Regions from separate parts of the Homo sapiens genome. Here region 1 is linked to region 2. Evidence: fine-mapped expression QTL. Tissue or cell type: whole blood. Region 2 holds a variant in brackets; the other region holds the start of a gene. All regions are shown on one strand. Distances are between the middles of the regions.

Evidence for each region. PIP is the estimated chance that this variant, and not a neighbour inherited with it, causes the effect.
Region 1: it holds the start of CTNNAL1, and the variant in region 2 is fine-mapped to the expression of CTNNAL1 in whole blood (TOPMed, PIP above 0.99).

What each region holds. Positions count from the first base shown.
Region 1 is chr9:109,008,585-109,016,691 of GRCh38, forward strand. CTNNAL1 (catenin alpha like 1) reads right to left here and starts at 4,915. Exons shown (of 19, transcript NM_003798.4): 1 at 4,718-4,915. The coding sequence starts at 4,858. It overlaps TMEM245 (transmembrane protein 245), which reads right to left. Exons shown (of 18, transcript NM_032012.4): 18 at 6,551-8,107. RefSeq lists an enhancer at 4,103-4,606 and a silencer at 4,268-5,157.
Region 2 is chr9:109,147,887-109,155,886 of GRCh38, forward strand. It overlaps FRRS1L (ferric chelate reductase 1 like), which reads right to left. Exons shown (of 5, transcript NM_014334.4): 2 at 1,750-1,834. Among named protein-coding and RNA genes, the nearest start is that of FRRS1L, 15 kb to the right of the region's middle. The variant G/A (reference allele first, on the strand shown) is at 4,505.

The sequences.
Region 1 (8,107 bases), 140 kb before region 2:
GATATTGCTACCATCTCCACGTTCCTCACCAACACTTATTCTCACTGTGGATTTTTTAGCTTGTAGTTCATTGAGTTCTAATGAAGTTGAATATCTTTTCCTATATCTTTTAGCTGTTTCCTCTTCTGTGAAATTATTTTTTGACCAATTTTTAATGGCTAATCTTTTTATTTTTTATTCATTGGAGTATTTTATTTATTCTAGGTACTACAAATCATTTGTTGGTTATTTGTGTTGGAATCATATTCTCCCACTTAATGACTTACGTTTTCCTTTTGATGAACAGAGGTTCTTTTTTTTTTTTTTTTTTTTTTTTTTTTTGAGACAGGGTCTCATTCTGTCACTCTGTCACCCAGGCTGAGTGAAGTGTTGTGATCACAGCTCACAGCAGGCTTAACCTCCCCAGCTCAAGCAATCCTCCCACCTCAGCCTCTAGAGTACCTGGGACCACAGGTGCATGCCATCACACCCGACTAATTTTTTGTATTTTTTGTAGAGACGGGGTTTCACCATGTTGCCCAGGCTGGTCTCAAAATCCTGGACTCAAATGATCTACCTACCTCAGCCTCCCAAAGAGCTGGGACTACAGGTGTGAGCCACTGCGCCTGGCCTAGGTTCTTCATTTTAAAGAAGTCGAATTTATCCATTTTTTTCTTAAGGTTTATACTTGTGGTATACTAACAAATCCTTTCCCAGCATAAGGTAATGAAGATACTGCCCTATTTTTTTTTTTCTAAAAGTGTTGTGAGCTTTTACTTTCATATTGTCTTTAATCCATCTGAAGTTGACTTTTTACTGGTATGAGACAGAGATCCAATTTCATAATTTCTATTTAGATATCCAATTGTCCCAGCTTAATTTTTTTTAAGTTCTTCCTTTCCCCACTGACCAGCAATGCCAATTGTCATTTACCGAGTTTCCATATATGTGTGGATCTGTTCTAGGGTTTTCTATTCTGTATCACAGGTCTATGTTTTTCAACCCTGTTCTGATACCCACATTGTCTTAATTACTATAGTTTTATAATGAGTCTTGAAATCTGGCAGAGCAAGTCCATCCACCTTGTTTCTCTTCTGCCTAATCTTGGCCCTTTGTGCTTTCATATAAACTTCAGAATTACTTTTATCAAGTTCTACTGAAAAATCTTGCTGAAATTTTCATGGAAATTGCATTAAATTGACCAATAGGGATAACTGATATGTCTATAATATGTCAACCTAGGCTTGAACACAGTACTTTTCTCCCATTTATTTAGATCCATGTTGGCTTTTGATAAAATTTTTAAATTTTCTCCATGAAGTTTGACCACTTTTGCTGTGTATACATAGAGATAGAGCTCTTTCTCTTTATATACATAGCAAAAGCAACATATTCTTAGGAAGCTCATATTTTGCTGTTACTGTTAATATAACTGGATTTTTTTAATAATTACTTTTTCTATTTTTTTTTATTATTTTTTAAAGACAGGGTCCTTGTTGGCCAGGCTGGAGCACAGTGGCGTGATCACAGCTAACTGCAGCCCTCAGCTGCTGGGCTCAAGCCATCCTCCCATTTTTTAGCCTCCTGAATAGCTGAGACTAGAGTAGCTGGGATTACAGGCACCAGCCAGTGCGCCTGTGCCTTGTTTGTTATCAATGTAGAAAAATGCAATTGATTTTAGTATCCTACACTCAGTGAACTTGCCAACACTCCTAATTTTTATAATTTACTTGTAGACTGTTTTGAGTTTTCTGCATAGGTTATTATATCACACTGAGACTTTTGGTTTTTCCTTTCCTATATTTATTCCTTTTATTTCTTCTCCTTGTCATATTACACTGGCTAGAATTTCCAGTGCAGTGCTGAGTAGAAGCATAGCAGGCACCCCACTCTGGTTTCTGGCTTTAAAGGAAATGTTTATTTTAAATTTGACTGTTGCTATGATGTTAAGTAAAAGTTTTCTGTAGATACTCTATCAGGTTAAGGACACTTTTTCCTAACACTAGTTCCCTAAGTGCTTCTTATCATTATTAGAAGCTGAATTTAGTTGAATGCTTTTTCTGCATCATTGTTAGGAAAATACATCTTTTATAATCTGTGAATGCAAAAAAAACTATACACATTTTTCTAATATTGATAAAATCTTGCATTCTTAGAATAAGGCCAGTAACCCAGGACTTTTCACTTGGAGAGTCAGAAGAAGCTAGATGATACCAGAATAGAAACTGTCTACTTTAAACCGTATAGTGCCAGTCCTACTTGTTTACCTCAAAACCCTGCCTCCTCCATGACATCACTGCTGACTCATCCATGCCTTCTCTGAGCTTTTAGAGTATGTACCATTGATGATGTTCATTTGACACTTTGCATGTGCTGTTCTATACATGACCTATCTACCAACTAGAATATAAGCCCCTCAAAAAACAGCAACAAATAAGCACACAATAAATCCTTGCTTAAAATGCTTAAAATATCCTTGTGGATGAGATGGTGAAACATGAGTTGGGTAATAATACAGCATTCTCAGAAAATGAGACTTGTGGACATATGAGTTTTCTGGAGAACTGCTGTTTTAATCTCCTAACACTGAAACTTTAAAATCATTCTAAATTGTACTTCCCTGCTTTGTTAACCGAGTATTCTGGCCATGCTTAATACACTTCTTGATTTTAACTTTTTCTTGTTAAGGACAGTCAATTATGAGGAATATCAGTTATGGTGTTGTGGTAGAGATGTAGCTGTAGATACACAATGTGTGGGATGCAAAACCTCAGCTGTGACCCTGAACAAGGCTTTAACTGGAAAAAGAAAAAAAAAAAAAGGCAGGCATTCTTCCCCTTTGGCATTGACCTCTAACTCTCAGCAGTGATTTATACTTTTCTTCCTCTGCTCTCCTACCCTTCTCTGGCTTCTTTTACCCCAGAGTTACACAATGCAGAGCTGTAAGACTGATACATTTTTAGCAGTGGATACTGTGAAAAGTTGCCATTTCTCCAGATTATGACTTTCTAGCTTGTTTTTCCACTATGTACCATCTTTTTCTCTAGATCTCATTACTGCTTCTAATCTCTAGAGAGGACACAGCATAGTGTAGCAAAGAGAACCTTCTGGAGCCAGGGTACCTGGATTCAAATCCCAGTTTGGCACTTATTGAAAGCCCTAACAACAAATTATTTAACCTCAGTATTCCTCAGTTTCCTCTCCCATACCACGAGAATATATACCAACTTCACATGATTGTTATGAGAATTAATGAGTTAATATTTACAAAGTGCTTAGAACCTGGCCTACCACATAGTAAGCATTACATAGGTGTTATTTAAAAAATGGATAAAATACTATCAACTTGAACTCCATCACTCTCTTATCTCTCTGCCTCTTAAAACTGCTCCAGTGTTTCTCGTTTTGGTTGTGTTGTGCTAGTGGAGATAGGCGAGGAGCGGAGGGTCTGACATTACTGAGGGATCCCAGTGCCCCTTCCCACTGGTCAGAGCCTCAATGAGACACAGGAAAAGGGAAGGAGAGTGTCAGATATATTCATCACTGCTCCGTTAGCCATGCGAAGGTGAAGAAAATAGGGATGTTTATTTAACCAGCATAACAGGAATCCAGGGACATGTGTAACTGCTGTTTTCAAATATGCGCAGGGCTGGGCAGGAGAAGAGATAATAGCATTTAGAATTCTATGCAACAGCTACAGGCTCCCCTTCACTGAACATGTTTAAGCAGGGTACTGGTGGCCAGGTGTCAAGGATGCTAAAGAAAGAATTTTTAGTCAGATAATCTTTAAGATTTCTTCTACCTCTAAAATCTTGGTAATCCTAGTATGAGTCACGAAGTGGTTACAACCTAGATGTGAGTCACACATCGCCAACGCGCTCCCGAAGGCACAGAATTCACTCCCCACAGTGCTTGGCATCTTACCACAGACCTAAGTGAGGAATTCTAGCCCTGAAGCTGCATATAACCCAGCTCAGAGAAACAAAAACTTTCCTAAAACTCAGGGCGTCGGTTAGCTGATTGGCAAATACAGTAACGCACACATCCCAAACGGGACTTGGCAAAACGGTGTGCATCTGGATTAACTGTCATACAGTCTCCACGTCACTCTTCCACGAGGCCGGACAGAAGCGGGCAGAAGTGAGCAGCAGCAGGTTCAGGGGAAGGGGTAGGGTGGCCGGGATGAATGGGAGGCCAGCGAACTGACCTACGGCGGGGAGGGACAAAGGATCAGGGAGCGCACGCTGGGCGGGGAGGCCGGGAGGAATACCCCAGGCGGAGGAGCCGGGCTCGGGACCAGGCTGCGAACTGGTGACAAAGTCGGTTATCGTGGAGGGCCCTAAGTACCAGCGAGGGGCCCCGCGGGGGTCCTCTCTGCCTCGGGAGCTGGGCTCAACCACTCGCCCCGCGGAGGGGGCATCGCCCGGCCGGGGGCACCCGGGAGCCGCAGACCCGAGGCAGGTACTGGGGGCAAAGGCCCAGGCCGGCACCCCCGCCCCGCAGCCTCCCCTGCTGCCGAGTCCACTCAACCCTGCCGCCGGAGTTTGGATTATCCAGTCTCTCGCCGCCCGGGCCGAGGCCCGTCCCGGAGCCCCACACAGGCGGTCCGACAAGAACGCCGCAGTGCCGGCGCGGAAAGTGGGGCAGCGGCTGCCTCCCGTCCGGTCGTGCGAGCGGCGGCCGCCATCGCGGGCCGCGGCGGGAAGGAGAAGAGGGGCCGCGCCAGGCGCCACTTTACCTGAGAAACCAGCGGGAGTAGCGTCTGCTCCACCGAGCGAGTTTTGATCTCCAGTCCCGAGTCGAGGGCGAAGCCCGAAGAGCCGGAGCCGTAGACTGCTCCGGCGCCGCCAACGCCGGCGGGTCCGGGAGAGGCGGCCATGGCCCTCGGTCTATCCCGCAGCCGGGACTCCGCGCCGCGGCGAGCCTGCCGCCAGTCAGCCCACCCGCCCGAGGCGGCGGCGACAGGACACTCGCGCCAACCGAGACCCCGCCCCCAGGGGCCCGCCCCCCCAGGGCTCCGCCGCCAACCCTGCGTCCCCGACGCCCGTCACCGTATGTCCCCGCCCACCCCCGGCCTCTGCCCCGCCCGCGCAGTCCAGCCTGGTGTGGGCTCCCTGCAACCCCACCCCCTAAGCCGGGTCCCGCCCCCACATGGCCCCGCCCTTATCTCTTCTCAGACCCCTTCCATGGGTTCCAGGCACCTTCTCGCCAGGGTGGCGAGGAGAAACAAAACACATCTGTCACACAGCCACATGGCCTCCTCTTACTTGGACAGACAAGCGTCCCCAGCAAAGCTTCCCGTCCTCTCGATAGGTGACTCGTCCTAAATCAGCTCTGAATTCCCGCAAAGACTTCTGGAAGCTGTGCTGGGGTTGAAACTGGTAGACCAAAACCAGAATCAAGTCTGTTGGGAGGGGCCTTTCCCCTGGGACGGGAATTCCAGTGGTAATGTCTTCCTGGGGCTTCTCCGGAAGGTCCAATTTCCACTCCACCCTGCTCATTCTTTCACCATGTATTTCTCACAAACACTTTGAGCTGGATTGAAGGGGAAACATTTGATAATGCAATCATTAATGGAGTATCTGGGTATTCGGCAGGAAGTCAGTATATCTTTCACACTACTGTTTAGACTTATTCAAAAGAAATTTAAAAGAAACATGAAAAAGCCTCATCTACTGTTCAACACTACTTCTTAAAACTATTTTTCGAAGTTTTTTCCTAGTGCCAGGCACAGAGCAGTTTCTTCATAACTGTTCATTGCATGAAAACACCAAGTGTGTATTTCTGACAACTCACTTGAGGGGAAGGGTAAGAATCAGTTCTGTAAGCACAACTCTGAGCTCGCACAGAGCCCCACGATGGGGGCGGGGAGCTGAAGACTCCTATTCTAAGGTCTCCAGGAGCAAGGCCAAAAGGAGGTTGTCAGCAGTATGCACGCCGTGAAGGAATTCCAGACTTAAGCAACAGACTGAGAAGCATGAAAAAATGTTTTGTCAACTACCATATCTGCCAGTGAGAACCTGTCAGAGTAAAAAAGAATCTGAGGCTGGCCAGTCCACCCGGACACCTTGGCCTGGATCATTTCTTCTTCCATAACACCAGATTGATGAGCTGGGTACATCAACCTGAGGCATAAGAAAGCTCTTTCCCAAGCACCGTTGAAAGGCGCTTCACAGTGCTTCAACCTGTAGCTTCAGCTTCATCAATCTACCAGTGCTGCACAGCTGTCTTTGGTATTGAAGATAGCCAAGCTTCAGCTTCTTTTTCTTCATTCAAAAAGGACAGGTCCTCAATCCAACTTTTTCTTCCAATTCTTCTCAGCCAACCATCTCACCACTTCCTTACCTATCACAAGGCCACCTTCCCCTGTGCACTGAGGGCCCTTGACCTCTTTAAGGCGCCCAGTGTCCACTTCCTGGACACACCTTCCCTTACGAAGTTGACAGTATCTCCTAAGAATTCAGTGTACACAATGGTGCCGGAGGAAATGGCATAACAGAAGGCCTAAGAGACGGATGGATTCATGAAACTTTGGCTTCACAAAAGATCAAGTTTTTCAACACACAGGAGATTAAGTTTACCACATGATTCATTCAACACTAGTAATTTTATTTCAAAATATAAATATTTCACATTAATAAAGAAGTTACATCAGTAGGTTGTCAAAGCAAGTTAGCTAAGAAACAGCATTTGTGTGAGAACAGAGGGTATTTATTGTATTCGAATATTCTTTTTTACTTTTGAATTGCCTCCTTCACCTGAGAACCCAGGGATGATACATTTTCAAAGAGTTATGTAAGCAATTACAACTCTATATCAAATCTTAGTTCAAAATCAAATTGTACTGGAAATACACTTCAGTTACCTAAATAAGTGGCACTGCAAAGGGCAAAGAAGGGTTTTCTTTGGGATGGCTACAATGAGAGTTACATCTGCTGGGTCTCTGCAATAAAAAATAAATGATATTTGATAATAAGCCAAAATTATCAGGATTTGCTTCCATACTTTTCACTGTAAAATAAAAAGCTAGCAAAAAGCTAGTAAGAAACCAGATGTCTAGTAAAGAACTCTGGACTTGGAGTCAGAAGTTCTGCAACTAAATTCTGGCTCCATCATTTTGTGGTATAAACTTAGGGGAATATCACCAAAAACTTTTCAGAGCCTCCAGAGCCCCCCCATCTGTACAATAAGGATAATATTGTCTGTCTCACAGGGCTGTTACAAAAGGTGTCTGAAAACTATAAAGTGCCATACAAAAGCATTATTAAAATGTAATATCAATATATCACCACTGTATTTGCACATTAGTTGATCCTTGAAAAACCTGCAAAATTAAACACAATACTGATTTTACACACCACAGGTGGAAAAGAATCTCTATACCTTAAGTATAGCTCTAAACAGCAAATATACTTGCTTTCTGGACTTCAAGATTTATTACACACTACATGGTACCACAGTAATAGATCTGCCATTCAGTATTTCCATTAGGGATGTCTTCTCAAAGAGTTGTAAACTTGATCAAGGGCCATGTTTCTCAAAGGACCCTGTAGTCCTTTGAGATGCTCTGAGGAATAAAGAAGGGGAGTGCAGTCTAAGGTCAAACAGTGTTTGTCCCCTTTTATAAATTCACAATGTGTAATAGCATGTTCAAAACTCTTAGAAGTCCTACAGTAAGGAAACAAACTCAGCATTCCTTCATTTTAATTGACCATGCAATCCCCCACCCCCAACACACACACACTTTTTTTCTTACATCTATTAACATCTCTTGGAACTACTGCTATATGGAACACATTTTGCCAAAAGCTGCTCAACCATGAAGAAAAGGAAAGAGAAGTAGAACAACGGACTGACAGAAAAAAAAGAACTCTATTCTATTCTGAATTCTGTTACTAACTGGCTGTATGTGTATGTCAGACAAGCCACTTAAACCTATGAATTTGGGTCTTTCTCTAGAAAGTGACAGGACCACCTAATTTTAGAAGTCCCATTCTAGCACAGAATTTCTGACTCTAGTAGACAGAACAACTTGATTTATAATTCTCTTAAACTATCAAAAATAACCAAACAGTGGCTGCAGACAGCATGTGTGTTTTTTTTTTTTTTTTTTTTTGCAGGTTCCCAA
Region 2 (8,000 bases):
CCTTATTTATGCGATACACCAAATGAATACCCCCATCTGGTACTCATGAACCATGAATGAATGCAATATTTATTTACAATTTTTTTTTCTTTTTTTTTTTTTGAGACAGTCTCACTCTGTTGCCCAGGCTGGAGTGCAATGGCGGGATCTTGGCTCACTGCAACCTCCACCTCTTGGGTTCAAGCAGTTCTCCTGCCTCAGCCTCCCAAGTAGTTGGGACTACAGGCATGGGTCACCACACCTGGCTAATTTTTGTATTTTTAGTAGAGACGGGATTTCACCTTGTTGGCCAGGCTGATCTTGAACTCCTGACCTCAGGTGATCCACCCACCTCAGCCTCCCAAAGTGCTGGGATTACAGTCAAGCCACTGTGCTTGGCCTTATTTATAAAATTTGCCTTTGTTCTGTTGGGCTACTTGCTGCTAATATAATTACAAATTCAGACACTAAAACATACAACAATATAAGGTGATTATCCAGATAGTGAGATTATGCAGACATTCATGTTTTTTTGAGAGCACCACTGAAATGAAAACACAAATTTAAATTTTCTTACAGAGCACTTGTGGATCCTTTCAGAACTGGCAAGCCCTGGTTTGAGGAACACTGTATTACACCATTTGCAGAATGGTAGAAAGTTGAAGCAATGGGTGGGACAATATACGCGCAGATGGAAGGTATCTAAAGGAACAGGGCACAGGGGTGCTAAGTGTTGAGGAGGGGACAGAAATGTACTACTATGCTGGCAGAAATACCCGAGCAGTCAGGAAGAGATATAATAGGATCAAGGCAACAGGGCACTGGGGTGAAAAAGATGAAAAGGAGCAAGGGAAGTTAAAAAAAGGAGTAAATGGACAAGAAAACAAGTCACTTTGAAGCCAGTAGAGTACTAAAATTCCCTCCCTTCTCAAAATATCCCCCAATCACCAGGTTTATACATTGCTGACCATCTTCCTCAATAAGAACATTTTTGGCTATTTTTATTCATTCCTTAGAAGTGGCCTTGTAATCCAAAGAAAGCTCAAAGCCCCTGTATTCAATTTTTCCTTCTTAGACCTTAAGTACTGAACAACAGCAAAATCAGAACCTTCAGTACAGTGACCATCAAAACTTTGCCCCTGACCATCAAATTATTCAGGGGCAATTTGTTTTAGGAAGTAAAGGGTTCAAAGGAGGAGGCTTTCCCAAAGAAGCTGAGCTGTCTAGATGGGAGGCCCATTGTCCACATGACTGTTTTCTAGCCCAGCCCGTCATGTCGTGATACTACTAATAATCATGTAGAGACTCACCATGCCTGAGATAACAAGCTAGCAACAATGAATGCTTAATGACTAGTTAGAATCATACAGATATCCATAGGTCAGGACTATTTACTAAAAAAGGAATTGGGTACTAAACATGTCTATCATTGCCTGTCCTGCCCACAGCCCCTGCTGAATAAGCACAGACACGTTCTGTGTCACATGAGTCTTCTGCATATCAGCAATTGGTGAGTAGGAGACACCTGGAGCAATGGTGGTACAGCTAGAAAAGAACCATGGAAGAATGGTCCCGGGCCCAGGACATACTAAAGTTAAAAGGCCTTTAAGACTGAAAAGCGGGATGGCCGTTACGAAACTTCATAACCCTGCTGAGGTGATCAAGGAGCTCAGGCCCCCTGATTAGAAGGAACTGCATGCAATTTAAATACTACCCTGAGAAGTAAATCAGTCTTAGCCTTAAAGTTATCCAACCTGCAGTTCCACCAACCTAAAGCATCCCTTAGTTTTTCCACAGTCGTCCACTTTGATTTTGGCAAATGGATCCACAGGAGGAGCAGTAGGGAAGGGGTAACCTGGGCAGTGAGAATAAAGAAGGGTTAGAAAATCCAGTAACAACTGTTCCAATGAGAATTTTTAAAAATGTGTTGACTGTTTTTTCTCACACATATCGAGAAATGTTTGGGGACTCAGAAAATGGCTTTGATGAAGGCTAATCATCCCCTTCATGGGGGAGGGTGTAGGACACACACCTTTGGACCTAATCTTGCATGTGAACTGAGAGTAGGTGTGTCCTTTTCTCACTTTACAGGAGAGGAACCTGGGGCACTGAGAGAGGCACAATTTCATATAACCACGGGCTTACCGCTGTCCCCTGGGAGTTTGAGAATCACACGTTTAATACAATATACATGTTCTAAGAGAAAAAAGTTAACAGTGATACATTTATATACTTGATAGTGGGATTTTTCCATTTATATACTTGATAACAGGATTTTTCCATTCCATTTTCAACTTCCATTTTGCGTTAACCTGTAGGTAACATTTTCTTAGGTCACTAAATTCTTTGTTTTTGTTTTTTGTTGTTTTTGAGACAGAGTCTCCCTCTGTTGCCCAGGTTGGAGTGCAGTGGTGCCATCCTGGCTCACTGCAACCTGTCTCCTAGGTTCAAGGGATTCTCTTGTCTCAGCCTCCCGAGTAGCTGGGATTACAGGCGCCGGCCATCAAACCCGGCTAATTTTTGTATTTTTAGTAGAGACAGGGTTTCACCATATTGCCTAGGCTGGTCTCGAATTCCTGACCTCAAGTGATCCACAGTCCTCAGCCTCCCAAAGTGCTAGGGTTACAGGTATAAGCCACCGCACCCAACTTGTCGCTAAATTCTTTAAACACATAATTTCTAACAGTTGTCTATCTTTCTTATAAGATTACTTACCACCATAATGCATCAAACCATACACCATAATGCATCAAACCATACCATACCCAACTTGTCGCTAAATTCTTTAAACACATAATTTCTAACAGTTGTCTATCTTTCTTATAAGATTACTTACCACCATAATGCATCAAACCATACATTGAAGGGTAAGGCTGCATTATGCCTCCACTTTGTGAGAGAAATCTTTTCTCCTAGGCTGTTTACTCCACGTACACAGGAATCATGTGAGACTTATCTTGTATTCTCTGCCCAGCATAGTGCTTGGCACTGGACACTGAATAAATGATTGTCAAAGGAATAAATAAAATCACCCACAGACATTAGGAAATGTAAATCAGTACAAACTTTTAAAAATCATTCTATTTTATGAGTTTTTTTCTTGTTATTTTTAAGTTTTTTCTTTGGGATTTGTAATGCTACTTTTTTTAAAGTGAGGCTTTGCTAATTTTGTCCATTAGATTTATTATACTTTAAAAAAGCCACCAGGTCACACTTTTCTGGCACACTTCTGTGCACTCTGAATAGTCCATTTTTACTATCCTGGACCTTGATCACATCATAAAGTACAATCCTAACTTTTTACCACCAAAGTAGTTGGATCAAATGCATTACTTTTTCTAGTTTTATGCTTATTTTATGCTAAGTCCTATATCTGCTTCAGTACTAGAGACCAGGGATCCCCAATCCCTGGGCCACTAACCAGTACCAGTCCATGGCCTGTTAGGAACTAAGCCGCACAGCAGGAGGTGAGTGGCAGGCAAGCAAGCGAAGCTTCACCTGTATTTATAGCCACTCCCCATGGCTTGCATAACTGCCTGAGCTCCACCTCCTCTTAGATCAGCAGTGGCATTAGATTCTCATAGGAGTGCAGTCCCTATTGTGAACTGCATATGTGAAGGATGTAGGTTGTACGCTCCTTATGAGAATCTAATGCCTGATGATCTGCCACTGTCTCCCATCACCCCCAAATGAGACCTTCTAGTTGCAGGAAAACAAGCTCAGGGCTCCCACTGATTCTACATTATGGTGAGTTGTATAATTATTTCATTATATATTACAATGTCATAATAATAGAAATAAAGTGCACAATAAATGTAATGTACTTGAATCACCCAAAAACCTTCCCCTTGACCCAGTCCATGGAAAAATCGTCTTCCACTAAACCAGTCCTTGGTATCAAAAAGGCTGGGGTTCACTGCTATAGACTGAGTCCTGACTTGAACGAGTTTTGTTTTTTTCTGAATAGTTATTGAGCCACTACAAACTACTGTATGTTAAGCAGCTTCATATATCTTCTTCCTGTTACTTCTCACTACAGTCCTGAGGCCATTTGTCTCAGAATATTTATCCAGGAATTCAATGATTGTTCACTTACATGTTTTTGAAATTCTAGAGTTCACTGACAAAGACAATCTCTTTTAATGTTGCATCTGACTCAGGTTCCCCATCTTCTTCCATTTTCAAACATATCATCCTCACTACTTCCTGGCATCTAGAATAATACGTTAGCATACAGCAGATTTCCAGCTCAATAAATACCAGTTACTATTACTACTGGATTATTATCACTATTTTTTTTTTGAGACAGAGCCTTGCTCTGTTGCCCAGGCTGGAGTGAAGTGGCATAATCTCAGCTCACTGTAACCTCTGCCTCTTGGGTTCAAGCAATTCTCCTGCCTCAGCCTCCTGAGTAGCTGGGATTACAGGCACCCACGACCACGCCCGGCTAATTTTTGTATTTTTTGTAGAGACGGGGTTTCACCATGTTGGTCAGGCTGGTCTCGAACTGCTGACCTCGTGATCC[G/A]CCTGCCTCAGCCTCCCAAAGTGCTGGGATTACAGGCATGAGCCACTGCGCCTGGCCCTATTAAATTTTGTAAACTGGCCTGAGAAGTAATAACCATTGGGTACGATTGTCTCTTTAAGAACAACAAGTTTCAGCTGGGCATGGTGGCTCACACCTGTAATCCCAGCACTTTGGGAGGCCAAGGTGGGCAGATCATGAGGTCAGGAGATCGAGACCATCCTGGCTAACACAGTGAAACCCGTCTCTACTAAAAAATACAAAAAATTAGCTGGGCGTGGTGGTGGGCACCTGTAGTCCCAGCTACTCAGGAGGCTGAGGCAGGAGAATGGCATGAACCCGGGAGGTGGAGCGTGCAGTGAGCCAAGATCGCACCACTGCACTCCAGCCTGGGTGACAGAGAGAGACTCCATCTCAAAAAAAAAAAAAAAAAAAAAAAAAAAAAAAAAAAAAGAACAACAGGTTTCTAAACTCCAAATGAAAGCAAATTTTGGAACAAAGCTAGCTCATAAATGTTCTGAACTAGTTTATTCATGTTGGCAAATGGCTTCTCAGGACTTTTCTAGCACTAATTTTCTATTATCATATATGCTTCTAAAACTTGTAATAGGAACTTGTGTTCTGTCAAATGCACTTGGACATGCCTTTAATAACATTTTCCTCTTATATTGCAAACTGTTGAAAAATAAAGAATTTGGCCTTTGTCCCTGGTTTCTGGGAGACAAACTCTAAAACCTTGGAATTTCCCAAGTAATGGGAGTGTTTTTGTTCTTCATGAGCCCCTTGGATTACACCTGAGTTTATGCTGAGCAACGGGATGACTAAGAATAGAGGCTGGTCACTGGAAAAACCATGTAATTAGAAGGTTGGGGCTTTGTGCTAGACCTACCTATAGGGAGGGTTGTGGGGCTGGAGATTGAGTTTAACCATGTGGCCAAATGATTAAATCAATCATTCCAACATAGTGAGACCCCAATAAAAACTCTGGACACTGCGGCCCAGTGCAGCTTCCTGGTTGAACACATCGATGTGCTGGGAGGGCAATGTGATAATCCCACGAGGAGAAGGCATGGAAACTCTGCCTTTGGGAGCCTCTCAGACCTCACCCTATGTGTCTTTTCATTGACTGTTCCTGAGTTGTATCCTTTATAATAAAACTGTCATAGTAAAAATAGCACTTTTTTTTCCCTGAGTTCTGTGAAACATTCTAGCAAATAATAGAAGCTGAAGTGGGAAGCTTCTTCTATCTTGTGGGAAGACCCCACATTTATAGCCAGTTGGTCTGAGGTGTGGACAATCTTATTGTGAACTGTGCCCTTTCACTTGTGGGATCTGCACTAACTCTGGGTCATTAGTGTAGGAACTGAATTGCAGTACACCAGTCGGGAGTTGATACTGGAATATAAGCAGAGCAGAATTAGATTTTTTTCCTGAAATTAAATGATCTCTATTTGATATAAAATAAGTTTGGACCATGTGCCAATATTTAAGCTCTTGTCTCTCAGCTACAACCCAGCCTTCTATAGGCTGAGTACTCTGCAAACCATTTCTCCTTTGCCAGGTGCTTAGACTCTGCCAATAGCAAGCATTAGAGGAAGGCAGGAGGAGGGAAAGAGGACTGTTCCTTCCTGTGTGATTGCTGTTCCAATAAGCAAGTTCTCAGCAACTCTACTTCATCCTGGCAGTTGGCCTGAGTTCCCAGTTCGGTGCTAGGCTCCCAGAACCAACCTCATCCCATGCTGCTCTGAGGCATCAGCAGCAGCTGAGCACAGCCTCATTCTCAAAGGATGGGTCACAGCTCTGCGAGGTCCTGGTCTGGGACCTTTTTATAATCTCAAGCCCTTCTCTTTGCAACTCCAGCCCCAAGGATGGTAACTTTCCTGAAGTTATTTTCTGCATGCTATCTTGGTACTCCCTTTTTGCTTCTCCAGTCCCGCAACTTCTTGCTTAGACAATTCCCTGGGCTGGTCTTTTGTTTAAACAGCTAGTATGATTTCCATCTTTCTTACTGGAACTTGATTGATGCAGACTAAATGGATTAACCTTTCAATACTGATACAATGTGTTTGCCAAAACTGTAGCTTATTAGTACTTATCCGAAGGCTAGAAAATAAAGACATTCAATAGGATCTATGTTTTACATGCATTAGACAATTCTAATGGGAAATTATTTTAATTGTACAATTCTAAGTACCCTAGGTACACAGAATTAAATTGGTATTTCTTGATTTATGGAACACTCATTATCAGTCTATACAAAGCCAATCTTATATTTTTCCACCAATCCATCACTAACTCCATTTTCTTCCCCACCTTAGACACGAGGTCCAGCATATTTCATGCATAACCTTCTCCCAAGGATGGAAGTTTTAACAAAAAATGAACACTCTGACACATACGTCTTAGAAAAGCAATATTTTACTATGATAAACTGAAAGGACACATTAGCGATAATGGATAACAGACAATTTGGTGGTGGGGTAAGGTTCTCATCTCAGTCCATTCTATGTAGCATGGAATTCTGCCTGTCCAGGGTAAAGTCCTGCCAGGTTGCAAAAAGTTTTTCATATTCCCAAGATTATCATCCTGAAACTCTTGCATGATTACCTTACACGATAATTACCAAACTGCCTTCAGCAGATCCTGGATCTAAGGTTCAGGTTCCAGGCACAATTTCTCACTCTGCCAACAGCACCCCTTGCCATGCTGCCCACAGCTCCACTGCATTAGCCTGTTCATGGCCAGGCACAAAGCCTGGAAATGCCCAAACAGAGCTGACCAGTGAGGGCCCACTGAAACTTACCATTCACCTCTATGTTTATTTTTACATAGGTGTGCTCTTAATATATCACTTGTGTATGTTTTAATTTGCATAAATGACACTGTGCAGTACATCTCATTCTGTTTATTATTTCCCTTTGGAAATCTATCCACATATGTAAGACTGAATATTATTCAGTCATAAAAAATGAAGTACTGATACATGTTACAACATGGACGTACCTTGATTATATAATCTCATTTACATGAAATGTCTAGGATAAGGCTGGGCACAGTGGCTCATGCCTGTAATCCCAGCACTTTAGGAGGCTGAGGCAGGCAGATCACTTGAGGTCAGGAGTTCGAGACCAGCCTGGCCAACATGGTGAAACCCTGTTTCTACTAAAAATACAAAAATAAAAAAAGCACACCTGTAGTCCTAACTACTCAAGAGGCTGAGACAGGAGAATTGCTTGAACCTGGGAGGTGGAGGTTGCAGTGAGCTAAAATTGCACCACTGCACTCCAGCCTGGGCGACAGAGCAAGACTCCATCTCAAAAAAAAAAAAAAAAAGTCCAGGATACACAAATATTGAATCAGAAAGATTCGTGGTTGTCTCGAGCTGGGGTGGGGAGGAGGGAGATGAGGGACTGCAGAGTAGTAGCTAAAGGTATAGGATTTCTTTGGGGGATGATGCAAATGTTCTAAAATTGATTGTGGTGACAGATGCACAACCCTG